Homo sapiens: one gene and its partners. The protein of the gene in region 1 interacts with the protein of each later gene in a pairwise test. Each region holds a gene or a part of one and is shown in the gene's direction. Other genes may lie near its edges.

What was found.
Region 2: the proteins of C1orf50 (region 1) and EPM2AIP1 interact in binary tests that used the Homo sapiens proteins (3 or more experiments, as listed by UniProt).
Region 3: the proteins of C1orf50 (region 1) and ADCY4 interact in binary tests that used the Homo sapiens proteins (3 or more experiments, as listed by UniProt).

The regions. Positions count from the first base shown.
Region 1 is NC_000001.11:42,762,621-42,774,243, forward strand, and holds the start of C1orf50 (uncharacterized protein C1orf50), read left to right. Parts: upstream 1-4,628; 5' UTR 4,629-4,691; coding exon 4,692-4,770; intron 4,771-4,888; coding exon 4,889-5,004; intron 5,005-10,942; coding exon 10,943-11,029; intron 11,030-11,623. Other genes in the region: P3H1 (prolyl 3-hydroxylase 1 isoform 3 precursor), read right to left, coding at 3,887-4,351.
Region 2 is NC_000003.12:36,982,002-36,991,268, reverse strand, and holds the end of EPM2AIP1 (EPM2A-interacting protein 1), read left to right. Parts: coding exon 1-15; 3' UTR 16-6,226; downstream 6,227-9,267.
Region 3 is NC_000014.9:24,324,839-24,334,376, reverse strand, and holds part of ADCY4 (adenylate cyclase type 4), read left to right. Parts: intron 1-1,388; coding exon 1,389-1,586; intron 1,587-1,693; coding exon 1,694-1,855; intron 1,856-2,439; coding exon 2,440-2,589; intron 2,590-3,020; coding exon 3,021-3,169; intron 3,170-3,247; coding exon 3,248-3,359; intron 3,360-4,081; coding exon 4,082-4,209; intron 4,210-4,358; coding exon 4,359-4,517; intron 4,518-4,843; coding exon 4,844-4,976; intron 4,977-5,142; coding exon 5,143-5,316; intron 5,317-8,034; coding exon 8,035-8,078; intron 8,079-8,211; coding exon 8,212-8,298; intron 8,299-8,489; coding exon 8,490-8,559; intron 8,560-8,902; coding exon 8,903-9,000; intron 9,001-9,538. UniProt on the Homo sapiens protein: Catalyzes the formation of the signaling molecule cAMP in response to G-protein signaling.

The DNA.
Region 1 (11,623 bases):
CACACCTATTGCAGGAACTACCCACGACAGATTAGGAGCATAGTGCCCTGGGCAGATTTGTAGCTCTTTCCCAAGTCAGATTTAGGGGTTCCCCAGATTACAGGAAGTAGCAATGTTCCATTTTAAAACAAAGGTCATATTGTATGGGGAGTGCTGTGAAAGACTGACTGCCCACATAATATGTTTTCATGCTGGGTGCGGTGGCTCAGGTCTGTAATCCCAGCATTTTTAGAGGCCGAGGCAGGTGGATCACTTGAGCTCAGGAGTTCAAGACCAGTCTGGGCAACATGGTGAAACCCTGTCTTTACGAAAAATACAAAAATTACATGGTACTATATGCCTGTAGTCCCAGCTACTCTGCAGGCTGAGGTGGGAGGACGCTTGGGCCTGGGAAGCAGAGGTTGCAGTGAGCCAAGATGGTGCCACAGCACTCCAGCTTGGGTGACACAGCAGGACCCTGACTCAAAAAAAAAAAAATACATATATATATTTCATGAATCAAATGTAATGCCTGAGCTGAAGAAATTCTGTGGCTTCAAGGATTTAGGGGTAGAGAAAAAAGAGCAGCTAACAGACTATGCCTAAGAATTTTCCTAGAAAAAAATTTTTTTTTGCATAAAATAAAATGAAGAATTTTTGAGACATTTAGGGAAAAGGTGGATGGCTAAAAATTCTAAGGTCCTTTACTAAGTCCAGACATAGTATTTTCTGACTCAAAGCTCAGGGCTCATGAGGTTCAAACAAATAGCTCTAAGAAATCTGAGGGGGTGGTCGGGGGCGGTAGCTCATGCCTGTAATCCCAGCACTTTGGGAGGCCGAAGGGGGCAGATCTCTTGAGGTCAGGAGTTTGAGACCAGCCTGGCCAACATGGTGAAACCCCGTCTCTACTAAAAATACAAAAATTAGCTGGGCGTTGTGGCGCACACCCGTAATCCCAGCTTCTTGGGAGGCTGAAGCAGGAGAATCGCTTGAACCCGGGAGGCGGAGGTTACAGCGAGCCGAGATCACAGCACCATACTCCAGCCTGGGTGACAGAGCGAGACTCTTGTCTCAAAAAAAAAAAAAAAAAAAAAAAAAAAAGAAATCCAAGGGGGGAGAAATAGGCTACAGACCACAATGCCCACAGCAATGGACTCCAGCATGTCAAAGTAACACAGGTTTCATATATAGAATCCAACCAAATAAATCACTGATGATCTAGTAATTAACTATGTGGACACTGGTATCAAAGAGACCAGCCGTGGCCAGGCACGGGGGTTCACGCCTATAATCCCAGCACTTTGGGAGGCTGAGGCGGGCGGATCATGAGGTCAGGAGTTTGAGACCAGCGGATCATGAGGTCAGGAGTTTGAGACCAACAATAGCTGGGCGTGGTGGCATGTGCCTGTAATCCCAGCTACTCAGGAGGCTGAGGCAGGAGAATCGCTTGAACCCAGGAGGCGGAGGTTGCAGTGAGCCGAGATCGCACCATTGCACTCTAGCTTGGGCAACAAGAGCGAAACTCCGTCTCAAAAGAAAAGAGGGCTGGGTGCGGTGGCTCACGCCTGTAATCCCGCACTTTGGGAGGCCGAGGCAGGTGGATCACAAGGTCAGGAGATCCAGACCATCCTGGCCAATATGGAGAAACCCCATCTCTACTAAAAATACAAAAATTAGCCGGATGTGATGGCACGTGCCTGTAATCCCAGCTACTCGGGAGGCTGAGGTAGGGGAGTCACTTGAACCAGAAAACCAGAAGTCAGAGGTTGCAGTAAGCCAAGGTCGCCACTGCACTCCAGCCTGGCAACAGCGAGACTCCATCTCAAAAAAAAAAAAAAAAAAAAAGAAAGAAAGAAAAGAGACAGGCCAGCATCACATCTGGGCTTAATGACTCACTGACTGGCTGGGCAGTAGACAAGATACTTAAAGTTTACTTTCTAAACTCAGTTTCCCTAATCTATCATCTGGAGATAGCATTCTCTAGCTATCTCCTAGCATTGTTGAGAGTTCAACGAGATAATATGCAGCCTGTAATACATGGTGCTGGGCACAGATTAAGTGCTCAATAAATTTTAGGTGGTATGATTAATATGCTAAGAAAACTTATTTTCTTATCATTGGTACTAGTAAAGGCACACTAAAGGAGTCAGCCCTGGTTAGGTGACCCAAGGTAAATAACTCCCCATCTCTGTACCTCAGTTTCTTTAACTGTAAAATTAGAAATTTTTTCAGGTCTGTCCCTTTCATGGAATTACTCTAGCTCTTGTGTCTTTCAGCGCTGCTCCTGCCTTTCTCTGTTCTCCCTCATGTCCTCACTCCTCTCTCCACCCCCAGCCTTCTTTACTCTCTAAGCACTGAGGTACTTAACCTCCTCTCTTGTGGACAAATGTCTGCCTCCTAATCAAGTGCCACCACTTTCTCCTTCTTCCAAGGCTCATTCACCATGGCTTCCAGAATAAGCGTTTTAAAACCCAAATCTGAGGATGGCTCCCTGCAGTCCGCAGAATTCTCTTCCAAATCTGGCCTCACTGACTTTTCTAGCCGCCTCTCCTACTACTCCCCACACACATCTCGACATTGCAATCACAAGAGTTCATTTTTTTTCCTGAATACATCATGCTTTGGTTCTACTTTTCTCTCTATCTGGAGGAGCCTTCTTTCCTCTCCCCCTGGCAATACTTAGGGCAGGCTTCAATATTACCTCTTCTTTGAAGTCTAATTTCTCTGAGATAAAGCTAGAGTCTCCCTCCTTTGTGCTCCCGCAGCCCTAAGTATATGCCCTTGCAGTAGCCCTTACTACAGTAACTCTTAACAGCAAAGCAAGACAAAGCAAAGACGTTAGTCGAGCATTTAATTACTTGTACAAGAACTGGAATGCAGTAGGTATGCAATACATGTTTGTCAAATAGTTTTAGAAAGTGCTATGATGAAGCGACATAACCAAAGACATAACGCAATTATTTTGATTTCAAGTCCAGCGCTCTTCCGAGTAACTAGGAAAAATGAGGGGAACTGTGTAGGCAGAATGCTGTGGAGGGGTGGAAATCTGAGGTCCCCAAGAGTCTCTAAGTGTCTCTTTAGATCGAATCGAAGGTCTTTTAAACAACAGATATACCAGATATAATGCACAACTCTTTCTCCCCCCACCCCCAATACAGTGGGACTAATAACAGCATCTACCTGACAAGATATTATGAAGATTAGGGCAAATGCGTTAATAAATGCAAACTGCTTAAAATAGTGCCTGGAAGTATGTGCTGGCTATCATCATCATCATCATCGTCACCATCACCACCACCAAACAAGCCTGGAACGCTCCAAGCCCAAGTGTACACTTGGACACATGGCACTCTGGCATTCCGAAAAATACTCATTTTCTTTGTAAACCTGGCAGACTAGCCAGAGGGTCCCCCCCCCGCCCCCACACACACACAGAAAGGGCCAGGCAGCCCCTGCTGGCGACGTGGCAACCTCACATCCTGAAAGAGAGCTGCTGAATCAAACAGCAGGAAAAGCACCACTGGAAAACCAACCGGAAGGGAGATATTGTAGACCGCTACTAGCTTCTCACTCGGACACTTACAATGACATCAGAATGGGAGACCCAAACTGCCGCTTTAATTCCTTCCAGGAGATTTCCCAGGGAACAAAATGGCCATGAGTTTTGCTTGGCCTGTGCCCTAACCCCAGGCTGGACCTTTGGGGTTAGCATCTGCCCATGCGAACTGGGCGAGGAAGGTCTCCTGCCAGGGAGCAGCTCTCCCCGGCTCCGAGGAGAGCTCCCCAGCCAGGAGGCCACTTTCCCCTCCCTGCGGACACTTCCCCGATCCCCCAAGCTCCTCAGGTCCCCTGCAACACTCCTCTCCCCAGAAGGACCCCGGCCGCCTGGTTCCAGGCAGGTCTGCACCTTGAAGTAGGCGACCTGCAGGTAGTTGTAGGGGCTCCGCTTGCGGAACTCCAGCTCCATCTCTTCGCTGAGCGAGTGGGCGGCCGGCGGCCCGAGGCAGCGGCGCAGGCAGGCAGCGCGACGCAGAAGGCCCCCGAAGAAGCTCAGGTCGCGCAGGGCGGCGGCGCCCGAGGCCTGGGCCGGGCTGGGGGACCAGTCGGGGTCCAGCTCCCACGGGAAGTCGGCGGCACACTGGGTGCGGCAGCGCAGGCGAAGGGCGCGGAGGGCTGCCCGGGAGCGCAGCGCCCGTTCCATGCTCAGGACCACCCCGGGCCAGTCCCCGCGCGCGTAGGCTGCGGTCCCCTCGGCGAAGAGCAGATCAGGCGTCACCATGCCCCATCCTGCCTCGGACTCGACCTCGGCTTGGGAGGCAGCGGCCACGACAGCCAGCAGTGTGGTCAGCAGCTTCAACGCGCGTACCGCCATCGCTCCCTCAGACCTAACGGAACCGCCAGCCACCCGCCACCAAGGCCGGAGTCCTACCCCCGGCGAAGGCCCGCCCCCGGGCGAAGCCCCACCTTCCAAGCCGGGCGGCGCATGCCCACGAGGCTTGCACCGCCTCTTTTCCTTTCAGTCAGCCCGGATCCCCCCACCGGCCCTCAGCGAATCCCGGCGCGTCAGCCGGAGCCCCGCCTCCGAGCTCAGGCCTTGCTCAGTCGAACTGACGCCCAGTAGACAAGAAAGACGGAAGCTCCGCCCACGCGCCTTTATGCGCAGGCTCTTCCTACTCGCACAGCCCAGGGAGTGGGGAGGATAAGGCGCTGTCATGGAGGACGCCGCCGCGCCGGGGCGGACCGAGGGGGTCCTTGAAAGGCAAGGAGCGCCGCCAGCTGCAGGCCAGGGAGGTATGCGGGGCGGGAGTCAGCAGGGGGAAGTCAGCTCCCGCGAGGCAGCCGGTCTCGGGGCTCCGCGGGAGGCCGACGGCGGGAGCTCACGGCTTGTGTTCCTGGGTGTGTGTCGCAGGAGCCCTGGTGGAGCTCACCCCGACCCCCGGCGGCCTGGCCCTGGTGAGCCCCTACCACACCCACCGGGCCGGGGACCCCTTAGACCTCGTGGCGCTCGCAGAGCAGGTGCAGAAGGTGAGGAGGCGCGGCCGGGGCAGCGAATAACCATCTTCGTTCACGTTGTACTCTGCGTCTTTCGGCTCAGACCTCACTACCACCTATGGTGGGGGTGGCATTTGCTCTTGTCTCCATTTTACAGACGAGTAAAGCCGACTGTCATTGTGAGTCGGTGGCCTGATTCGAATGACCTTCTGGGACCAAAGGTTCCTCTAACTGCAACTTGAGTGCCCATAATCTTCCTTCGTGGGAAGGTTTACACAACACTTTAGTGTTCATTATTTCATTTGCACCTTAGGACAGCCTTGTGAGGTAGGCAGTACAGAGTTATTCTTCCCATTTGACACAAAGAAAAGTTCTTCGGGAAGTTTCAAGGTCCGCTTATTTTAAGCTGCTTCCCATAAGATCTTTGTTACCTGAGAGTTTAAACATCTTCTAGCAGGGCAAGGACTCCAAGTTTAGTCCTCATTAAACACAGTATTCCCAAGCCCAGTGTTTATATATGGATGGCCAAAATAAGTCAAATAAGGAGGAAATGTGAAATAATGGAAAAAACACTGGAAGTTTGGACACATGAGTATTAATCCCACTTTTGATACTAACTTGCAGTGCGACTTAAGGCAGATTACTTCTCTCTGGACCTCAACTATTTTATCTGTGAAGTGAAAGGTTTGAAGTAGTAGAGCTCCAAGATCTAAAGTTTTGTCATTATTCAATGAAAAACCAGATTCCTTCTTATCTCTTATCAAGACTTCCAGTTGTACACCCTCTTCAGTGTCCACAGATGGAGGGTCCTGCTGTTTTAAAGATTATCATGGCCCCTTATCCCTGTATACACTATCAGATTTGGCCTTGATTATGTTCCAGGGTCTTTGCTTTGCCCAAAATTATTTAATGTGCTCAAATTCCCTCACATCTCTTTTTTTTTCAATGATCCTAGAAATCCTTCGAATCCTTTTTTTTTTAAAATTAAGAAAAATTCAGATACGCAGAAAGCTCCTTTAATTCAAAACTTGGCTTTCTTCTTTTTGAAGAGCTGGGGAGCAAAGTGCAACTTTTATTTATTAAGAGAATATGCATCTAGTTAATCAGATTACTCTTATTGGGAGGGAGGTTGGCAGGGACAGAATCTTGTGCACACAACGTATTCATGTGCTATTGAATGACTATCGTGTTTATTACGATGGCCTGAACAGATGGAAGAAAGAACACAGTTTTTGTCTTTCATCCTATAATCTTATGAAATACAGAGGATGCATTATTATGCTGCCTCTGTTTCCCCAATACAATCTGTATTTGAGAAGCTGAAGAAAAAAAAAACTTTAGAGACAAACAAATTGAATCAAACATATTAACTATCTAAAATGTACTTTTTGGCCAGGTGCCGTGGCTCACACTTGTAATCCCAGCACTTTGGGAGGCCAAGGTGGGTGGATCATTTGAAGTCAGGAGTTCGAGACCAGTCTGGCCAACATGGTGAAACCCCGTCTCTACTAAAAGGTGTGGTGACTCATGCCTGTAGTCTCAGCTACTCGGGAGGCTGAGGCATGAGAATCGCTTGAGCCCAGGAGACAGAGGTTGCAGTGAGCCGAGATCGCACCACTGTACTCCAGAATTGGTGACAGAGTGAGACTCTTAAAAAAAAACAAAAAAATGAGGCTGGGTGTGGTGGCTCACGCCTGTAATCTTAGCACTTTGGGAGGCTAAGGCGGGAGGATTGCCTGAGCTCAGGAGTTGGAGACCAACCTGGGCGACATGTGAAACCCTGTCTCTACTAAAATACAAAAAATTAGCCGGGCATGGTGGTGTGTGCCTGTAGTCCGAAGCTACTCTGGAGGCTGAGGCGGGAGAACTGCTTGAACCTGGGAGGCAGAGGTTGCAGTGAGCTGAGATCACACCACTGCACTCCAGCCTGGGTGACAGAGCAAGTCTAAAAAGAAAAAAAAATGGTGGTGGGCTGGGTGCAGTGGCTCACGCTTGTAATCCGAGCACTTTGGGAGGCCAAGGCGGGTGGATCACGAGATCAGGAATTCAAGACCAGCCTGGCCAACATAGTGAAACCCTGTCTCTACTAAAAATACAAAAAATTAGCCGGGCATGGTGGCAGACGCCCGTAATTCCAGCTACTCATGAGGCTGAGGCCGGAGAATCACTTGAACCTGGGAGGCAGATGTTGCAGTGAGTGGAGATTGTGCCACTTCACTCCAGCCTGGGTGACAAAGTAAGACTCCGTCTCAAAAAAAAAAGTACTTTTTTAGCAAGACTGACCCAGGTATTGGTGTGTGTTCAGAAAGCTCAGGAGGCCTGGTATTAAGGCATGAATTTTGGAATCTGACCTGTGTTCAGATCCTTTGCTGTTTATTATCTGTGAAACCTTGGACAGGTTGCCTCATGTCTGTGAGTCTTAATTGCTAAAATGAGAAAGTGAGGTTATCATCTCCAGCGTCATAAAGGTGTTGTGAGAAGTAAATGAGATGAATGTAAAGGGCCTCAGAGTAGTTGAGGCCAGGGTTAGTGCTTAGTAGTTGTAGGTACTCTTCCCTTCCTTTCTTTTTTATGAGGCTCTTTTGTTTTTAAGTTGTTCGTGAAATATTTTGCATTTTTTTTGTTTGTTTCTTTTTTCCTTTTTTTGGACCTCAGACTAATCCATATTTTGCATTTTATATTAACTCTTCAAAATATAAATTCAAATTTTGTTTATGAGATTTATTGCTAACACCTTAAGAAAAGGGAGGGTTATTATAAGGCCACCCCTAATCTGGAACTACCTTAGCTCTAGAAATACCTACTCTCTCCTTGGCCATATATGGCTCCTCCTTTCTTTCTTTCTTTTTTTTTTTTTTGAGATGGAGTTTCGCTCTTGTTGCCCAGGCTGGAGTGCAATGGCGCCATCTTGGCTCACAGCAACCTCTGCCTACCGAGTTCAAGCAATTCTCCTGCCTCAGCCTCCCAAGTAGCTGGGATTATAGACATGTGCCGCCATGCCTGGCTAATTTTGTATTTTTAGTAGAGACAGGGTTTCTCCATGTTGGTCAGGCTGGTCTCAAACGCCCGACCTCAGGTGATCCATCCGCTACGGCCTCCCAAAGTGCTGGGATTACAGGTGTGAGCCACCACACCTGGGCTTTCATTCTTGGAACAAAATGCAAATTCTTTTACCATGGGCTACAAGACTGCACAATCTGGTCTCTGCTCTCTTTTTAAACCCTGTTCTACACATTGCCCATCACTAACTACTCTTCAGCTGCACTGGCCTCAAATGCCTGCAAACTTTTTTTTTTCCAGCTTTTTTCATGGTCGGTCCTCTCCTTTCATTTAGACCCAAGTCAAATGTTATATCCTTGGTGAGGCCTTCTTGTCTGAAGAAGACCGTACCCTACCCCATCCAAATGACAGTATTATTAAATTGAATTCAAATACCTCTAGGCTACATATACTTTCCAATTCCCCACCACTCCCTATTATTAAACTTCATAAAAATGAAGTAGCTTTTTTACTTAACTCATTTGTTATCTTTAACCTGCTTCTACGACATAATTGTGGTTATTTCCTTCATAACAGTGCATTGTTATGAGTACATATAATATTAGCTTTAATCATCTTTACTTTTTGGTATCTATTACTCACTGGAGCTGTGCTTTAGGTAGCCACTAGCAACATTATGTCTGTTAAGCACTTGTGTTACGTTGTTAGTGTGGCTGAGGAACCGAATTTTGTATTTTATTTGATTTTAATTAATTTGAATTTAAAAAACCTGATAATTACTTCAATTATTGGAACTCAAGTATATTGGAACAATTTGAGTATGTGAATCAACTTTTTCACATATAAATTTTATTAAGTTTAAATACAGATGAAGTATTTCTGATGAAAATTTAGCATCCAAATTGAGATGTGCTGTGAGTACAAAATAAACACTATATTTTGAAGGCTTAATATCAAATGCAAAATATGGATTAGACTGAGAAGGACCAAAAAAAGAAACAAAAACAAACAAAAAATGCAAAATATTTCATTAACAACTTACAAATAGTGATTACATGTTAAAATGAAAATGTTTTTGATATATTAGGTTAAGTAAAATGTATTAGCTGAGCACGGTGGCTCATGCCTGTAATCCCAGTACTTTGGGAGGCTGAGGCAGGCGTATCACTTGAGGCCAGGAGTTCGAGGCCAGCCTGGCAAACATGGCAAAACCCCATCTCTACTAAAAATACAAAAATTAGCGGGGCATGGTGACGCATGCCTGTGGTCCTAGCTACTCAGGAGGCTGAGGTGCGAGATTTGCTTGAACCCGGGAGGCGGAGGTTGCAGTGAGCCTCTGCACCACTGCATTCCAGCCTCCGTGACAGAGCGAGACTCTGCCTCAAAAAAAAAAAAAAAAAGTATTGTTAGAATTAATTTACTATTAACGTGGCTACCAGAAAATTTAAAATTTTATATGCAACTTGCCTCATATTTCTGTTGAACGGTATTAGACTTGACTTGCGATCTTGACAAAGGCAGGGACTTCTCTTTCCTGTTTGCCAGTACACCCAGTGCCTAGTGTGGTGTCTGACACATAGTAGCTGCCTAATATACATCTGTGGGACAGATAAATGACTCAGTTTACTTGTGTGGTTTCTGTTCACTCATAACACTGGTTTATACCTGAACTTTGCCTTAAGACTCCTCAACTAACCAGCAAATTCTCTTTAATATTTCTTAGTTCAGGTTCTAGTTTAATCTCCTCATTTCTTTACCTTAATTGTGTATAATCAGCTTTTCTTAAAAGTAAGGTGGAAGTTTTTGACAGAATTCTATTGCCTGAGTGGTAATCCTTCCCAGCACATGAATTTGTCACATTAGTCTCTCCTAGCTTTGAGAATTTGATCTATTTTAAGAAATGTCCTGGCTGGGCTCAGTGGCTCACACCTGTCATCTTAGACCTTTGGGAGGCCGAGGTGGGCGGATCACCTGAGGTCAGAAGTTCGAGACCAGCCTGGACAACATGGTGAAACCCTGCCTCTACTAAAAATACAAAAATTAGCTGGGCATGGTGGCGGGCACCTGTAATCCCAGCTACTCAGGAGGCTGACATTAGAGAATTACTTGACTCCAGGAGGCAGAAGTTGCAGTGAGCCAAGATTGCGCCATTGCACTGCAGCCTGGACAATAAGAACGAAAACTGTCTGAAAAAAAAAAAATGTCCATTGCCTTCAGTTGCACTTTGTGGCACGTGACAGGTAGTCTTGTGTGTACATTATAACTCTGTTTCAGGTCCACATCATAATGCAGTCTTTTAAAATACATTTTAAGTAATAATTAGAAATGCACATATAAGTTAACATTTAAGTAGTTGTGATGTAAATAACTGAGGAAATGGTCAGATTAACGCATACTTTCTCAGTTCAGGGGGTGTGGGGGTCACACAGAAAAACCCGAATACTTTCTATGTGTATCTAGATTTCTACCTTAGCAGATGATAAGGGCCAGATCACAAGTGTCTTTTAATTATTTAAAATCCATCCCTGATTTCACAAGTGTTTAAACATGAGAAAATGGAGACCTGAGAAATGTGTGGTGTTTGTTAGGTAAAGAGCAGGAGGAAAAATGGATTGGTTGGAGGAGAGGATATATTCAGTATATTTGGTAGCAGGAGAGAGAAAGAGAGAAGGCATGCTGGAGAACCAAAGAAGTTCAGTGTAACTGCAGTTCATAGCGAAGGGGTGGAAAGCTATGGGAAATAGAAGAGAGCACTTAACTCTGTGGCGTGGAGTCATGTCAGGGTGGCCTTCTCATGACAGTGCTATCTGAGTGGGGCCTCGGATGAGTGGGAGGCTATGGGGCAGTGGCAAGAATGGGAAAAATATTTTAGGCAGAAGCAAAATATTAACATAACCCTGGGATCAAGATAAGAACATCATAGAAGTCTTTTCCTCTTTCAACCCACAGTTTAGTTTTTTCTCACCTGTAGGCTGATGAATTCATCCGAGCAAATGCCACCAACAAGCTGACAGTCATAGCTGAGCAAATCCAACATTTGCAAGAACAAGCCAGGAAGGTAAGGAATGACTGTTAGACAGGCTTTCATTTTCTTTATTTAGTTCTCAGGATTGGCTGAACTTGTTTATAATCGTTGTGACTTTTTATGTCTTTAATACCTCCTAGAAATGTAGAGGTGTTGAGTAAAATAGAAGGAATAAGCTTAAGAGGTTAAGTATAAGTTTTTGTTTGTCTGTTTGTTTGTTTTTGAGACAGAGGTTTGCTCTTGTTGCCCAGGCTGGAGTGCAGTGGCATGGTCTCAGCTCACTGCAGCCTCTGCCTCCCGGGTTCAAGCGATTCTCCTGTCTCAGCCTCCCAAGTAGCTGGGATTACAGGTGCCCGCCACCACACCCTGCTAACTTTTGTATTTTTAGTAGAGATGGGGTTTTGCCATGTTGGCCAGGCCTGTCTTGAACTCCTGACCTCAGGTGATCTGCCTGCCTCAGCCTCCCTTGTTTTGTTTTTTCCAGGAGAAGGTTTCATGAGGTAAAGCATTTAACAGGGGATTATGTTTTCATTTATAAAAGAAATGTACTTAGCACAGAAAAATAGGAAAGAAGCTTAAAAATTACCCAGGGTCATTAATGCTCAACATTTTGAAATATCTTTTTTT
Region 2 (9,267 bases), on another chromosome or scaffold:
GAATCTAATCCATAAGGCTTTGTAGTACAAGATTGAAAAACTCAACAAGAATTTAATTCTAAAAGCAAAAATTGGTTTGAGTTTTCAAGTTTACTAATTTGGATTGTGAGAAAGTACCAAGTACCAGCCGTCCAAACTGATCACAATTAAAATTCTGACAGTTGCCTTTTTTTTCATCTCAAATGGCAGCATGGGACTGAAACATGAGAATGCCACCTTTTTTAAAACTTAGTTTAGTGACAAAGTCATTGTCTTTTATGATATAGTTAATTTTAAAGAGATTTAGTATTAATGTGAGTTGAATTTGCAGTCTGTTTTTTAGGTGTTCTGAAGATAAATGCCAAAAATTTCAGCTCTTATTTTAATGGAGTGTTAAAATTCTGATTCATATAGTCTTAAATTATCAACTCCTTAAATGTGCTTTTGAACCAATTTGCAGAAGCTCACATAGCAAGTTCATAAGTTTCCAAAAAGGAAGCCCATACATAACAGTGGAGGTGTTTTGTCTAACCATCAAAATGTTTGAGACTTTTTTTTAAACATTTCTGAGTTCGAAGGTAATACTGACAGATTTCTTCCCTCTTCCCTCCCCATCACCCACCTCAGTGATAACACATTACTGATAGAGGAAGTCATTAGAATCATTTTTAAGTTTCAGATATAGGAGACTTCATGCAATTTGGAGATAAGACTAATTATTGGGGGTTTTCCTTGGATTTTTTTTTTAATAACTGGGGGCTATTTTATCAGCTTGCCTATTAAAGGACTATGGTAAGTATAGAATCTTAATGGTTGCCAGTTAGTAATTCTTTTTTTTTTTTTTTTTACTGTAGACACAAGTTTGGCCCTATCAAAAACGATGAGGAAAAAAGATTGCACTCCAGGATTAGGAGGTGTGAGATATTTTAGCTTTTTTGTCTTATCTGCGTGGGTATTGCTGCTTTATTTTAAAAAATCCTGCCTAAAGTAAACACTTTGTTTTAAAATGATACAGTATCAGATTTTGTTAGATGCTAGAAATGGATTTATTCTAAAATTTGGAACTGTCGTACACATTCTATATGTAAGATAGCACACAAGTAGAAATATTTAAAAGCAGTCTTATTCACAGATTGCAGTAATTCTGTATTTCTACTAAGATAATCTGCTTTGTGCCAAAACAGTAATTTCCAAACTTCTGTTCACCATGAAAAGGCAATCTTAAAGTTCATTATGTAAAACTAATTATAAACAGGACCCAATTTATATTCATAGATCCTCTCAAGTATTATACAATTTAAAAACTCTTGTTCCAAAGTCCTGTCTTAACTATTGAAACACCTTAATCTGTGGTTACTAATCCAGCAAATTCAAGGAACCAGGCTATGACTAAGAATTTAGGTGGAATTGATGTCTGGGCAATTAAAATAAATGGCATAAGAGCTTAAAAACCAAAGTTGTGCCAGTGGCTTTCAACTAGAGGCAGTAACCTGTCATTCCAGAGGATGCTGAGAAATGTGTAGGGGCACTTTTTTGGTTGTCATATTTACTAGGGGCTTCTGTTGGCATTTAAGCCTAAAGACACTCACCCCTGCAGTGCATGGGACAGCCTGGCACAATGAAGAATTAGCCCTCCCAAAATGTAGATTATTTTATTTCAAGGGATAGGGCAGATTACCATTAGAAGCAAAATTAAAAGTACAAGCTGGGCAAACTGACAGAATACTAGATAGGAGAGACTAATTCCAACCTTCTAAATTTGGCTAGTAAAGTGCAATAAAGGCATTGATAAGTTCTGTTAGCTCACCATAGCACTTGTAAATCAGGAATTAATAATTGAATCAGATTTAAGGGCTCTGTCCTGTTATACATATTTAAGGCAGAAAAAAAGTTACATGTCGATTAGGTACTTATCAAGAATGGTCAAGCTGAGATTTTGGTTAATAGAGTAAGCTTACATATCTAGAGAAACAACATAGTGGAAAACCGAAAAAAAAAAACAGAAAAATCTACCGGTAATTTCCCAATAGCTTTGAATATTCACAGCAGAGCTTTATTACTTGAGAGAAAGACTGGAAGACCTGAAAGCCACTTCTGCTTTCTAACCCCAGTTCCTTAAATATTGAAATCTTGTACATTTTGTGAAATTCCAGTATGTTTTGCTTAAGGTGTTAATAAAATTAGTTTGCATCATGTAGTCATTGAGTGAGGGGGAGATATAAGCCAAGGATTTTAAATTGACCCTTAGCTATAGAGAATTTGCTATAAGCTAGTCTTGTTTGTAAAAAAAAAAAAAAAAAAAGAAAAAGAAAAAAGTGTATTTTACTGTTTTCTGTATTAAGTAATTCTGTAACTGCATGGCAGTCTTTTTTTTTTTAAATAAATATAGTTGTTACTGGTCCTGTTGTAGCAGTGAATATAGTTAAAATACGTACATTAAAAAAAAAATTATTAGGTCCTTACCAGTTACTGTCCTATAGCTCATTCCTACTAGTTTTCTTGACAGATTTGTATTCCCAGTGTCCCGTATTGCCACTCAAATTGCTCTACTATGCTAAGTCCTTGTTAATAGTCTTACCCTCCTTGAAACACTTGAACACTTGATGACTTTAGCTTTGAGGAGATACCATCTCCAGGTGTGCTTTCTTAGTCTTTGCAGGCACCTCTTCCCTTCAATATCTGTTCTTCGTATTTTTAAAAAAATTTGTTTTAGACTGCCTTGTTCTGTGTCAGCTCGCTAGCTGATCTCATTTCCTTCCATGGTTTCCTTACCATTTATATGCAAATGACTGTCAGATTCATATCTCCTTTCTAGATCTTCCCTAATTGATGTATCTAATTGCTAACAAATGCTCTTTGCTGTCTCAGGCACTACATGTCATTGATCTTGCCCCCAATCCTGCTCCTCCTCTCATGTTTCCTCTTTGACTAAATGGCATTACCACTACCAACCATTCATTTGTCCTTTTTACCAATTCTCCAATGCTGCCATTTTAATTCAGGCCATCAACCTACCTAAATTATAGCAACAGCCTCCTTATTAGTCTCCCTGTTTTTTATTTTTATTCCTTTCTACACTACAACCAAATTGCTCCAAAAGACTTACTGATCATGTCACTGCATTGCTTTCACCATTGCTCTTAGGGTACAATACAAATTTATCTTCATCTTTAAGGTCTCAGTATGCCACTTCATCTAGGAAACCTTCATTGATGCCCTCTAGATTAGGTGCCCTTACTATCCATTCCCTATACACCCTGTTCTTTCCCAGACATACACTTGGCACACTTTATTGTTACTGCTTATTGATCACTGCTAGACTGTAAGCTTTGTAAGGGCAGGGACCATATAAGCCTTGTTCACTGTTATATCTCTAGTGCTTAGCACAATGCCTGGCATTTCAATAAATGTTTGGACAAACGAATATTTGTGTAGTGTTTTACAATTTTTGAAGCTCTTTCACAGTCTTATTTGACCTTCACAGTCATTCTGCCTTAGACTGTCCATTGGGTAACTTTTATCCACATATTACTAATTGAAAAATGAAGACAAGTTCTTTGTAACTAGGGACCTCGTTGTATTCTCAGAATTTAGTGTAGTGCTTAGCATGTGACTTAAATATGTATTATGTGACTGTTAAACAAATTGTGGTTTTCTCTGTTGTATGAAAGGAGAGAAGGATAACAAATTGCGGTTTTCCCTGGTAAACACAGTAAGTAGTAAACTCAGGATTCAAAACCAAATATACACACCAAATCCACTATGTAATATTAAGTTTGCATATCCATGTATAGAATCTTATTTTTTTTTACCCTTTGTAAACAGTGTCATATATATATATATATTTTTTTTTTTTTTTTAAATTTCCAAAGGAACCTACATATAGAGGGAAAAGATTAGACAACTACTTAGTGAACTAAAACAATATGTTTTTACTAAATGTTACATTTAGTATTGGAAAAAGATAATGCCGCCTAAGAGTTAATAATCATTTTTCCTTTTGTAGGCATCAACACTAGGAGAAAATGGCATGCTATTTACTTGCTACTTTCCTTTACAGATGATTTTTGGCTCTTCTGGGATTTAAAAGTAAGTAAATTTAACAAAGTAGAAGACTGACTCAGCCCTTCTGGTCACTATATATTCAGTTCACTTGTTTTTACACCTGCAGAATGTCCTTATCACCCAAAGGGAGATGACCCAAAAGTGACATCTAGTTAATGTATACTTCTAAAGTTTGCTGTATTCCTTTGCCTTCTTGTTCCCATGCCTCTCTGAACTTAATTTCTGGGTAACTGAGGCTTTTCAGGCTTAGGTGGGAAAGCCACACCCTTAGTCTGTTTCCTTAAGCCATTTTGACCAATTTATGGGATTAACTAGTATAATCTTAGTTGGAGTTTTAGTCTGAGGCATATTAAGTCATTCAGAGATCTTAACAGTAGGTGTCATAGTCATCCAGTGATTTGGTGCTTGCTGCAAAACTGGCTTTTTTTTTTTTTTTTTTTTTTGAGGCGGGGTCTCACTTTGTCACCCAGGCTGGAGTGCAGAGGTACAATCTCAGCTCAATGCAATCTCTGCCTTCCTGGCTCAAGCAATTCTCCCACTGCAGCCTCCTAAGTAGCTGGGAATACAGGTATACACGAGTACACCCAGCTAATTTTTGTATTTTTATGTGGAGACAGGGTCTTGCTGTATTCCCCAGGCTAGTCTCGAATTCCTGGACTCAAGCAGTCCGCCCGCCTCGGGCTCCCAAAATGTTGGTGTTATACGTGTGAGCCTCTGCACCCGGCGGCAAAACTGGCTTTTAATCAACCTTTTGGCTAAAGGATTTCTCTTTTTATTTATTTGTAAAAGGATTTCCCATTTTTATCTTTCTTTTTGATATTAAAATGTTGCCTCATCCTACCCAGTAAGTACTTGAATTTGAATTCTCTTCCTTTTCATTTTTGCCTGCAAACTGACCAGTCTTTTCTGAGTTCATCTCTTCTGTACGTTTTGTCAAGTGCAGTGAACAGCAACTACAAAATATTTTGTTTTTCTGTCTTTTTCTTTAGTAAAGGGTAGATGATCTGCCTTTCAGGTTATCTCAAGGGGCAGTTTCACCTTTCCATAATATAAATTACCCTTGTGTAAGTTATTTCTTCCATCTTCTGATAGCAATTTCCTGAATGCCTGCCAGCTAACCATTAAGCCAGTGTTCAGTATTTTAGCATTTTAAAAAACAAGGGACCAATTTCTGTGTCAGCATGGGCTAGCTTGCCATTGAATAACAAAGGCAAAATCTCACTGTCTCACACAACTTTTCTATTGCAACTTGCCTAGGGACTTTGGTTTAGATCATAGGTTGGCCATGATCAAACTATGGTCCATGGGCAAAATCTGTCTAGCTCCTTATTTATCTAAATAAAGTTTTACTGGAATATAGCCTTGTCCATTTATTTATTATCTGTGGCTACTTTGGTTCTACAATGGCACAGCTGAGTAGTTGCTACAGAGTGTGTACATCTCACAAAACCTAAAATACTTATTCTGTGGCCCTTTACAGAGAAAGTTCACCAATTTGTGCTCTAAGTTGCCTTCATTCTGGGTCTCAGGCTGACAAAGCAGATACCATCAGGAGTGTGGGTGCTAACTTTGGGAAATGAAAAAAGAGTATGGCAAATCACTTAAGGACTCTTAAAGGACTTTCATTGGCCAAAGCAAATCACATAGCCACATTAAAGTTCTAGGAGGAGTGTGATCCTTGCATATACCTGGGAGAAAAACCAGAAATATTTGGAAGACAACACCACTGATTAACATCTTCATTTATATGCTTTCTTCCAATATATTTTCAACTTGTTACTGAGGTAAAATTTAAAAGTGTACCGATATTAAGTGTACACCTCAGTGGGTTTTTATATATGCCCTTGAATGCACCACCCAGGTCAAAATATAGAATATTTCTAGCACTTCAGTAGGTGTCCTTATGTTCCCCAGGCCCCCACCAACCCCTTTTATCACCACGGATTAGTTTTGCCTGTTTTAAAACTTTATGTAAGTGAAATAATTATATGCACTCTTCCGTGTCTTGTTCAACATTGTATCTGTGAGAGTAATCCATGTTATATGTAGTAGCAGTTCATGTTTTACTTCTGTGTAGTATTCCATTGTGTGACTACATCACAACTTACCCATTCTACCGTTGATAGAAATTTAGGTTGTTTCCAGCTTGTGGTCATTATGAATAAAGTTACTATGAAAATGATCACATCTGTCTTTCAGTGAGCATGTGCACCCATTCTTGGCATACTCTTTGGTATGTACCCTGCTTCTATATTTTCCTCATATAGTTTATTCTCTACATAGCATTCAGAGTGATCCTTATTTTAAAATATAAATTAGGCCAGGCGCGGTGGCTCACACCTGTAATCCCAGCACTTTGGGAAGCCGAAGCAGGTGCATCACCTAAGGTCAGGAGTTTGAGACCAACCTGGCCAATATGGTGAAACCCCATCTCTACTAAAAATACAAAAATTAGCCAGGTGTGGTGGTGCATGCCTGTAATCCCAGCTACTCAGGAGGCTGAGACAGGAGAATCGCTCCAACCCAGGAGGCAGAGGTTGCAGTGGCTGAGATCATGCCACTGCACTCCAGCCTGGGCGACAGAGCAAGGCTCCGTCTCAAGCAAAACAAAATATGTGTGTATGTGTGTATATTCATATAAATCAGACCATACCACTTGTCTGCTCAAAATCACCAATGGCTTTGTATCACAATCAGACTAAAGTCCAATGTCTATCATGGCCTACGAGACCCTGCATACTCTGCACCCACACATACTCTGCACACATACCCTTTTTCTTCCTACCATCTTACCTCATACCCTTTATCCCTTTCCCTGTTCCTTCTCACTCTCCTCTGTACTAGACATAGTGCTTGTAAACTTGGGAATCAAAATTAATGATGTGGCCTTGTCCTTAAAAGAGATTGTAATCTAAGTAGATAGTTTTGACATAAGCTATAACACTGGTTTATGTTAAATCAGTTACCCCAATTTATACTGATGTTTAACTCCTGGAAGGGATTTAGAAATTAAAATGCAAAATCTTGACAAATTTGAGGAATGTGTAAGATCTTACCTCCTAATTCTACTAATTCTAAATTAGAGTTTACCAATTTTTGTTTGTTTTTTTTGAGTCTCGCTCTGTCACCCAGGCTGGAGTTCAGTGGCGAGATCTCGACTCACTGAAACCTCTGCCTCCTGCGTTCATCTTCTACTTCAGCCTCCCAAGTAGCTGGGACTACAGACGAGCACCACCACGCCTGACTGATTTTTTGTATTTTTAGTAGAGACGGAGTTTCACCATGTTGGCCAGGCTGGTCTTGAACTCCTGATCTCAAGTGATCTACCCGCCTTGGCCTCCCAAAGTGCTGGGATTCCAGGCATGAGCCACCATGCCCGGCCCGAATTTACCAATTTGGTTATGACATTCATAATTGTTCACTTTTATGGGAGCAGAGGGTGAAGGGAGTTGGGAAAGCAGTGGAATAAATCAGTAAGTACTGATATTAAGTCCAAAATAGCACAGTCATAAGGGACCTCCTTAAATGTTGTACCATTATTGGTACATTATTGGTTGTTCTAACTGAAATCAGTTAATAACTGAACTCTCCACATTTTTTACAACTTTCATATACAATTGAAGTACAAGAAACTGCACGTATTTAAAGTAGAAAATTTGATTGGTTTTGACATAAATGTGTGAAACCATCACAATCAAGAGCGCTAATCCCATCATGAGGGCTCCACATTTATGAACTAGTTGCCTCTCAAAGGCCCCACCTCGAAATACTGTTGGATGTTAGCATTTCAACATATGAATGGGGGTGTGGGAGACACAAACATTCAGTCCATAGCAGGAAAATATAGGGATGTCTCAGAACCACCATTGTCTACTTTCCTGTTTGTGTCTGCTTTCTTATCACTTCGCCTGCCGGCCAGCCTTTATGCGCTGCATTGGTGTCTATCACCACCTTTAGTGCTGCTGACCAACTGACCTAATCTCATGTGCCAATTCTGTATTCCTGAGTGGGGACATGTGATCCAGTCTTCGGTGGTGTCTTTCCTGAGGTCTGACATATACCTGTAGTGAAGTAAGTGGTGGCTATGAAGGGGAGAATATCATAATGTATTTGGAAGGGCTTTCTGGTTGTAAGAAAGAAACTTGTGCTAGCTTAAGGGGGAGGAATAATTGAATGATTAGAGAAATACAGAAGTATCTCATGGAAACCACATGAGGGAATGAAATTCAGTGGTCCTTCAATAATTATTTGATGAAAACCTGCTAGGGCCAGGCACTGATCTAGGCACTGGAGATTCAGCAGTAAAGCAAGCGGTATTTCCTACCGTGATGGTTGTCTGTGGTCCCTTTGCACATCCGCTTCATTCTGTCTGAACAGCAGCTTCACCTGCTCATTTTTCTTCAAGGGAGAACATAGTTGTGACTAGCAAGATACTTTTTCCTAAAAGGATCCATAATACATAGCTACAGGCCCCCAGGCCTGTGGTTGGGATGGGTTGAGGTTAGAGACTTTATAGGAGGATATGAACTGACAGGCACACCAAAAGTCGTCTTACTCAAAGCTATCCAGTGAGTTTATTGCCTCCCAATTATTGGAGTTCTCACTGAACCCTCTGAGTCAGAATTTGTGGAACTGAGTATTAAAGGGTCCATAACTTCTTTGCAATGTAAAGAAATTGGGCCCCAGAGAGGTGGTTAAAGTTATCTTGAATTATGTAGCAGAACCAGGAAGAAAAAGCAGTTTTTTGAACTGTTGCAGTACTTTTCTCATTCTGTCATTGCTGTCATTACCTGACTGCCTTCATGCCTCCATTTCTTTTAAGAAACTTTTTTTGGTGGAAGACCTCAGAATCTTCATGGTATTTTCTTTGGTTCTGACTAGCAATGGCTAAGACAGGTTATCTCTCAGTGCTTATACAGAAATCCTTTAGGAATCTGGAATTCTATTAGATTATCAATATGTTAGATATATAATAAATATTAGAAACATTTTATATTTTGTGTGTATTCTGAACTGTTTAAAAAGCACAAATATTACCTGTTTCTAGAGGATTTGAAAAAATTTATCTGAAAAGAATGGAACTAGCTGGGCACAGTGGTGCATGCCTGTAATCCCAGCCACTCAGGAGGCTGAGGTGAGAGGATCACTTAAGCCCAGGAGTTCGAGACCAGCCTGGGTGACAGAGCAACACCCTTATTTCTAAAGGAATGGGACTGGCCAGAG
Region 3 (9,538 bases), on another chromosome or scaffold:
ATTGAGCCTGGCTAGGAACTGCAGTGACCCTGGGCAAGTCACTCTACCCTTCTGGGTCTGCTCAGGGAGAAAGCTGAGTCCTGGATGCTTCTCGTTTCTGTCCGGGTTCTGACAGACTTTATGAACATCCGTGGTCTACGGGTTCTACAATAAATCCATCACCGGATTTTCCAGTTTTCCAAAGGGGAAATTCTAGGAGGCCCCTGGGGAATTCATTTCCTGCCTTTCTCTCCCTCTTAGGGGATGTAGAGCAGTTGTACCCACAGACTCCCAGAAGGCACCCTCCACCGGGCTCTCACTGAGTCCCAAAGTAAACCCATGTCCAGTTTCTGTTTGGGGAGGAAGAAGGTCTTCAATCCAATTCTAGAAATGGCCTGCCCCTGGTTTTCTTTTCACTGCTTGGAGGCAAGGTGGGAAAATCACCGGGCGCGGCCAATCCTTGCTGGTCCACGCCTAAATCCGGGAAGAGGTGGGGACAAAATGCTGGGACGGCTGTGCAGCTTCTGCTTGGAGTTGAGGCAGGTGGCGAGATCGCAGCCCTGGTGGCCAGGGAGGTGCGGGACGCCGCGGGTCCTGGCGCCCCCTGCTGCTCGAGCGCTGCCTCGCGCCGCCCTTCAAGCTGCCGGCCGCGGTCCCCGGCTCCGGGAATCTCCCGAGCAAATTGGCCAGATTTGGAGACATTCATTCCGAAGTGCCTCCTTGTGAGCTTGGATCTATCTTTCACTTGCTTCATGACGCTTTGGTTCCCGTTTGACAGATAAGAAAACTGAGGCTCAGAAACAAATAGGGGATGGGAGCCAGATCTTCTGGGTAGCTGTCCCAGCAAGATAATAGGTTGGACAACAGGAGGCTGGGCGCTGTGGCTCACGCCTGTAATCCCAGCACTTTGGGAGGCCAAGGCGGGAGATCGTTTGAGCCCAGGAGCTCGAGACCAGCCTGGGCAACTTGGCGAGACCCTGTCTTCTACTAAAAATACAAAAAAAAAAAAATTAGCTGGGCGTGGTGGCGGGAGCCTGTAATCCCAGCTACTCGGGAGGCTGAGGCATGAGAATCACTTGAACCCGGGAGGCAGAGGTTGCAGTAAGCCGAGATCGCGCCACTGAACTCCAGCCTGGGCGACAGAGCAAGACTCTGTCTCAAAAAACAAACCAACCAACCAACAAAAACCATACGAGACTGCTGAGTCTAGATAAAAGCAGTAGGACACAAGCAATTTCAAATGGTTCAACCTAAAGTGAATGGCAAGCGGAGGTGCCTTGCCTCCTTTTCGTACTTAGGCTTGAGACACCTTTCAGAACTGGGCTGAGGGGCTGGGCTGCTGGCTTTTCCTTTATCAGGTTCGTTCCTTCTCCCTGTCACAATCTTGCCTCACACACCCCTGCCCACAGGAGCTGACCTCAGACCCGAGCTTCCTGACCACTGTGCTGTGCGCGCTGGGCGGCTTCTCGCTGCTGCTGGGCCTCGCTTCCCGGGAGCAGCGACTGCAGCGCTGGACGCGTCCCCTGTCCGGCTTGGTATGGGTCGCGCTGCTAGCGCTAGGCCACGCCTTCCTGTTCACCGGGGGCGTGGTGAGCGCCTGGGACCAGGTGAGAGGGGCGGCAGGCGGGGCAGCGGGGACGGCCCGGGCTTCGATCCCTCACCAGGCCTTGAATAGCCCCACTTGGGCCTTCGGCTTCCCGCGCCCCGCCCCCAGGTGTCCTATTTTCTCTTCGTCATCTTCACGGCGTATGCCATGCTGCCCTTGGGCATGCGGGACGCCGCCGTCGCGGGCCTCGCCTCCTCACTCTCGCATCTGCTGGTCCTCGGGCTGTATCTTGGGCCACAGCCGGACTCACGGCCTGCACTGCTGCCGCAGGTGAGCACGCAAGTAGCACAGGCTGCGCTCAGGACGGCTCTGCCACGTGCTAGTAGGCTCCTTTTAGGGGGTTGTTGAGCTGTGACTCCAAGTCAAGGTGCAACGCTGGGCGCAGGATACCCAACCGTGCTTTCGCAGAGCTGGTACAACAGTGTGATGCAATGCCTGCTGTTACCAGAAGAGGGATCCAGGCCACACGGAAGGGAGTCGTGTCGTGGTTTACCCCGGGGACAACAGATGTGGTTAATGAAACCTTGACAGAGAATGAAAAAAAAAAAAAAAAAGTTTTGTGCGATGGGAGTGGGTAGCGACAGTGGAGTGGTATTCCAAGCACAAGAAACCTACCTGCAAACGTTTCCAGACCTAAGAGGTCGTGTTGGTGAAGCAGCCGAGAGTCTGGAGGAGGGAGCATCTGGGAAGGGAAACGTCCCTAGGGATGCCACAGTGTGGCACCACTTGTCCCACAATAGTTAGGTCCCTCACTGTAAAGCCCAGTCTTCCCCAGCCAGTCTTTGAGACCAACTCCAACTACACACGACAAGCACCCGGGTCCCGCGCCCTCTGAGGCTGGCCTTCACCCACAGTTGGCAGCAAACGCAGTGCTGTTCCTGTGCGGGAACGTGGCAGGAGTGTACCACAAGGCGCTGATGGAGCGCGCCCTGCGGGCCACGTTCCGGGAGGCACTCAGCTCCCTGCACTCACGCCGGCGGCTGGACACCGAGAAGAAGCACCAGGTCAGCCGGGCCTAGGAAGGTCAGAGCAGCGCTCCGAGGGAGGAGTTGCTTAGATTACATAACGGGGCTCCTCCACAAGTTGAGTGACTCTGGGCAGGTTTCTTGACCTGTTTCCTCTTTTGTATAAAATGTGGGTATTGCCCATCTTAGAAGGTTGTGAGGCTCAAACAAACCAAAGCTTATAAAAAGCACTTTAGAGCATTATGATATTAAGTGAACTCCCATTCAGGTGTTGATACTGGGAGTTTAGTCACTAAAGGTGATCAGTGTAGGATGGAGTGCTGGGGCCCTGCTGTGTGCAGCGGGAGGACCTGGGGGAGCACCCTGGGGAGCACCTAGGATGGGCAGTGTGGGCTCCTGAGTGATTTGGGGGACAGGGCCTCCTGGCTTTAGGGTGCAGAAGAGTTGGTGTTCATGGTGACCTCTTCCAGGAACACCTTCTCTTGTCCATCCTTCCTGCCTACCTGGCCCGAGAGATGAAGGCAGAGATCATGGCACGGCTGCAGGCAGGACAGGGGTCACGGCCAGAGAGCACTAACAATTTCCACAGCCTCTATGTCAAGAGGCACCAGGGAGTCAGGTATGAGGAAGAATGGCTGGAGGGGAGGGGCCTGTGGGCTAAGACCCTGGCCCTGCTGACACAGTCTGCCCTATGCAGCGTGCTGTATGCTGACATCGTGGGCTTCACGCGGCTGGCCAGCGAGTGTTCCCCTAAGGAGCTGGTGCTCATGCTCAATGAGCTCTTTGGCAAGTTCGACCAGATTGCCAAGGTCAGAGAAGACTTCCCTCCCCACCCAGGGACCCTCAAACATCCCATCCTGGGTAGCCCCTTCCAAGGGAAACTCCCACCTTATAAGATCCCAGGCCCACTTCAGTGCATGCAGGCCCCCAGATATTCCAGTGGAAGGAGGAAACCCTCTCAAACATTCCCAGTCATGAAGCTGCTCACCACACACCTCAAACCTACAGAGATCCCTCAATATCGCCACAGATGTCCCAAGTACAATGCCCCAAACATGCTCAGAGCCCCCACATATGTGTCTCTGGACACTACAACCAAATCTATAGAGACGTTCTGATATTCTAACCTTAGGAGGCCCTTCCAAGAGAAATTTCTGCCCTATGCAACCTCAGCCCAGCAACCTGCTTAGACTCCAGGGATGCCTCCAAGCAACCAATTCTTGGATTCCCCCCAACCTCTCAATCCTGAGACCACTACCACGTACTCAACTCTGGGTACCCCCTTCAACATGCCAAAAGTGGAAAGAGCCACAGCCATCCAGCCCTTGGGGAAACTCTTCTGAGAAAGAGATCTGTATGAAAGACAGTTAGCCCCATATCAAGTGAAAGGAGTCCCTAGATCTGATCTAGACACTACCCCACCTTGGAAGTTCTTCAGGAATACCCCGCTCGCTGCCCACTTTTCCCAACTCCCTCCTACCCTTCTGACCTCTAACCAGGTTCCTCTGCACACCCACATACACACTCCCAGGAGCATGAATGCATGCGGATCAAGATCCTGGGGGACTGTTACTACTGTGTCTCTGGGCTGCCACTCTCACTGCCAGACCATGCCATCAACTGCGTGCGCATGGGCCTGGACATGTGCCGGGCCATCAGGTCAGCTCAGGCGGTGGTCAAGAGGAATGCTGAGGGTGGATGTGGGGGGCAGCAGGCAGCTGACAGAAGTCCTCTTTGTGAGAATCTGGGGTGTCTCACAGGCAGGGCTGAGGGTAGGACTCAGATTGTCCCACACACACACTGCTCAGGAAACTGCGGGCAGCCACTGGCGTGGACATCAACATGCGTGTGGGCGTGCACTCAGGCAGCGTACTGTGTGGAGTCATCGGGCTGCAGAAGTGGCAGTACGACGTTTGGTCACATGATGTCACACTGGCTAACCACATGGAGGCAGGCGGTGTACCAGGGTGAGACCTAGGGCCCTAGGCAGCTACAGCAGAAGGCCAACCAGGCCTACCACAGGCTGCCATCCTTTCATTAGTTCCTTAAGATAAGCACAAGATGAGTACCTTAAGATAAGTCCCATATGGGGCTTGGGAGATCCTAGGGTGCAGGGAGGGGAGCTGGGAGGCACCTCCTGTAACACAGGCTCTTTCTTGAAGTCAGACATCCAGGAACGATCTTTAAAAGACATGAGATGTTTGTCAGTTCTAGGAGCCATGGGGGTGATGGGGCAGGAAATAGGAGATTTGAAGGCCCTCCCTGCTGACCCCTACTGCCTCCCTCCTTCCAGGCGAGTGCACATCACAGGGGCTACCCTGGCCCTGCTGGCAGGGGCTTATGCTGTGGAGGACGCAGGCATGGAGCATCGGGACCCCTACCTTCGGGAGCTAGGGGAGCCTACCTATCTGGTCATCGATCCACGGGTAAAAGCCCAGCCCAGACCCCATGGGCTGGCCTACACAAACCACCCCACAGCCAACAGGCCTGATCTCTTCTGTGCCAGAGATTGAGTTCCTGGGTCCTAGTGGGGGGTGGAGGGAGAAGGAGGAAGTGTCTGTGGTCTTTACTGTCAGCCCTTATGTGCCCCAGGCAGAGGAGGAGGATGAGAAGGGCACTGCAGGAGGCTTGCTGTCCTCGCTTGAGGGCCTCAAGATGCGTCCATCACTGCTGATGACCCGTTACCTGGAGTCCTGGGGCGCAGCCAAGCCTTTTGCCCACCTGAGCCACGGAGACAGCCCTGTGTCCACCTCCACCCCTCTCCCGGTATGTGCACCTTCATCCTGAGCCCCAGAGCTTAGTTAAATCCACCCCCAGTATCCTCAGGCCCCACTGGCAGCCTTCCCTGCCCCCACCACCAGTGAGCCACTTAATGATTTGTGACATCCCAAAGTCCCGAACTGTCTTGTCACCCCAGTCACTGGTTCAGGCCCTTCCTTGCCCCTCCTTCTAGAGAAAGAGCCCTCCAGCTCACCTCAGAGAAGATACAAGATCCCTACAGACACCATTGTAGGGACCAGCCCCACAGGGTCGGTGGGTCTCTCCCTGTGTGCGACGACGAGAGAGTGTAGAAATAAAGACACAAGACAAAGAGATAAGAGAAAAGGCAGCTGGGCCCGGGGGACCACTACCACCAATGCGCGGAGACCGGTAGTGGCCCCGAATGTCGGGCTGCGCTGTTATTTATTGGATACAAGGCAGAAGGGGCAAGGTAAAGAATGTGAGTCACCTCCAATGATAGGTAAGGTCATGTGGGTCACATATCCACTGGACAGGGGGCCCTTCCCTGCCTGGCAGCCGAGGCAGAGAGGGAGAGGAGACAAAGAGAAAGACAGCTTACACCATTATTTCTGCATATCAGGGACTATTAGTATTTTCACTAATTTACTACTGCTATCTGGAAGGCAGAGCCAGGTGTACAGGATGGAACATGAAGGTGGACTAGGAGCGTGACCACTGAAGCACAGCATCACAGGGAGACGGTTAGGCCTCCGGATAACTGTGGGTGAGCCTGACTGATGTCAGGGCCTCCACAAGAGGTGGAGGAGCAGAGTCTTCTCTAAACTCCCCCAGGGAAAGGGAGACCCCCCCCCCCACCCCGCTTTCCCGGTCTGCTAAGTAGCTGGTGTTGTTTCTTGACACCTTTTGCTACCGCTGGACCATGATCCGCTTGGTGACGGGCGTCTTCCCAGATGCTGGCGTCACCGCTAGACCAAGGAGCCCTCTGGTGGCCCTGTCCAGGCATAACAGAAGGCTCGCACTCCTGTCTTCTGGTCACTTCTCACTATGTCCCCTCAGCTCCTATCTCTGTATGGCCTGGTTTTTCCTAGGCTATGATTATTGAGTGAGGATTATCATAATATTGGAATAAAAAGTAATTGCTACCCACTAATGATTAATGATACTCATATATAATCATATCTAAGATCTATATCTGGTATAACAATTCTTGTTTTATATTTTATTATACTGGAACTGCTCGTGTCCTCTGTCTCTTGCCTCGGTGCCTGGGTGGCTTGCCACCCACACACCATGTCCATAACTCCCCAGCCTCTACTCAGGAGAGTGCCTTCCCCTGACACCACAAAGGCAGTTGGACCCCCCACTTCCTCCTGTCTCTGATTCTAGGGCTGTGCACCCATAGCACCAGGAAATGTCTCTGTTTAACTCAATTCCTGAAACTGCATGCTCTCTTCTTCAACCCCCCAACACTGGGGAGTGGGGGAAGGACACTGGCAGCAGTGGTTGCAGGAAGTACTTAATTCCAAGTGTTAACATGAGGTAGGGGAGAGGTCAGAGGGTTAAGCTGGCAGGAGGAAGAGGAAGGAAGAAGCTGAGGTTCAGCTGACTGTTGCAGGATGAGACCTCCAGCATGGGTGGAGTGGTGTGTGGGGACTGCTACAAGCCCAGGGACTGTGAGATGGTGTTAGGTACAATTACATAGCAGGAATGCCTGCCGGGGCCCATGCTAGACCTCCTGCCGCTTTCCACTGGTGTGCAGGCTAGGGAGTATTAGGGTGGAAGAGCAGGACCCTTTGTTCAAGGGTGTCTCCTGAGGCAGGACCTTCACTAGCACAGAAATCCACTTAGCCCCTGAAGTTCCAGGGGCTCAGTCAAATATTAGAAATCTTGCCAGGCACGGTGGCTCACACCTGTAATCCCAGTACTTTGGGAGGATGAGGCAGATGGATAGCTTGAGGTCAGTAGTTTGAGACCAGCCCGGCCAACATGGCGAAACCCCATCTCTACTAAAAATACAAAAATCAGCCAGGCGTGGTGGTGCGTGCCTGCAATCCCAGCTACTCAGGAGGCTGAGGCAAGAGAATTGCTTGAACCTGGAAGGCGGAGGTTGCAGTGAGCTGAGATTGCACCAATGCACTCCAGCCTGGGCAACAAGAGCGAAACTCCGTTGCAAAAAAAAAAAAAAAAATCCAGCCAGGTACGGTGGCTCATGCCTATAATCCCAGCACTTTGAGAAGCCGAGGCAGGCGGATCACCTAAGGTCAGCAGTTTGAGACCAGCCTGACCAACATGGTGAAACCCCATCTCTACTAAAAATGCAAAAATTAGCTGGGCGTGGTGGCACATGCCTGTAATCCCAGCCACCTGGAAGGCTGAGGCAGGAAAATCGGTTGAACCTGGGAGGTGGAAGTTGTGGTGAGCCGAGATCATGCCATTGCACTCCAGCCTGGTGACAGAGCAAGATTCAGTCACACACACACACACACACACACACACACACACACACACACACAAAGATCCTGGGAGTCTAGAGAGTCAGGGGGAAACTTTAAGGAGATTCAAACCTCCCCTTCAAGGGCAGGTGGGATTTGGGAGACAGAGAGGTCATTAGAGGCAAAAGAAAGAGCCCAGTGAAATGCCCAAGGTCAAAGACATGTATAGAGCATGCAGTGTGGCTCATGGTCTACCTCACTGCAGGGAAAACACCCACCATGCCCACCTCCCCCTGTGCTCTCCCAACAGGAGAAGACCCTGGCTTCCTTCAGCACCCAGTGGAGCCTGGATCGGTGAGGAGGCCTCAAAGTCTTTGCCAGTGGGGCTGTCTGGATGACCCCCTCCATCCTCCCTGGGGGTCTGCTCCTGCTTTGCCCAGACGCTCTGAGGGTCTCTGTGGTGATGGACTTGGCTCTCACTGTGCAGGAGCCGTACCCCCCGGGGACTAGATGATGAACTGGACACCGGGGATGCCAAGTTCTTCCAGGTCATTGAGCAGCTCAACTCGCAGAAGTACGGAGAACAAAGAGGGCTGGGGGGGCCGCAGGCCCTGAGGTCATATGGTGGAGAAGGGATGGTGCTCCCTGAGGGGCTGGAGGGAAGACTCGCCTGACCACCCCCTCTTGCCCTCACTCTGCCCTCTTCCTGCCCTTCTGTGCCCTCTGTTCTCTGGTGCTTTCACCCACCCTCCCACCTCCCACCAGACAGTGGAAGCAGTCGAAGGACTTCAACCCACTGACACTGTACTTCAGAGAGAAGGAGATGGAGAAAGAGGTGGGCTGTGGTGTGGGTGGCACCAAACAACTTCCCAACTTTAGTTCCTTGGTGCTGGGGAGGGGTCAGCCCTTGGGTCTCCTCCCCAAGTCTGCTCAGTTTGTGATCCTAGGGGTGAGGAGCTTGTGCCTCTCTCTAAAGGAAAGTCACTCTGTAGACTGAGCTACTAGATGGTAGGGGGAGGAAGGAGGGTAACTCCTTGGAGAACTGGTAGGGTCTACATGGAACTGAACTGGAGCCTGGGCGGTGAGGCTGAGGAGCCCACCCCTTGCCTGGGAGTGATGCCTTCAAGGTGATGGGTAGCACTGGACCCTGTCTCCACCTCTGGCCCTCTCACTTTCAGTACCGACTCTCTGCAATCCCCGCCTTCAAATACTATGAAGCCTGCACCTTCCTGGTTTTTCTCTCCAACTTCATCATCCAGATGCTAGTGACAAACAGGTGAGAGTGCCCCAGGCAAAGGAGGCCCTGGCTGTCATAAGCGGATCACCTTGCCCTCATGACCCCGGGCCACACTTTCTTCCTTCACCCCTTCCCCTTAGCTTCAGGCACTTACCCACAGAGGAAACATGTGTTCTGGGGAAAATGATAATCACGGCCCTTATCTTAACCTTGTAGATCCTGTGGACTTTCTACACAGCCCTAGCATTTTCCCATGAGCATCTCTTTTGATTCTAACAACATCCCCATGAAGGCCAGTTTGTTTCCATTGAGAAACCCAAATCTGGCAGCAAATGCATGAGCTTAGAAAGTAGGCCCTCATTCCTAGTCCACTGCTAGGAGGGATGAGGACTTGTTCTTAACTCAGCCAGGTGGCCGGGTGTGATGGCTCACGCCTGTAATCCCAGCACTCTGGGAGGCTGAGGCAGGTGGATCACCTGAGGTCAGGAGTGAAAGACTAGCCTGGCCAACATGGTGAAACCCCATCTCTACTAAAAATACAAAAATTTGCTGGGTGAGATGGCAGGCGCCTGTAATC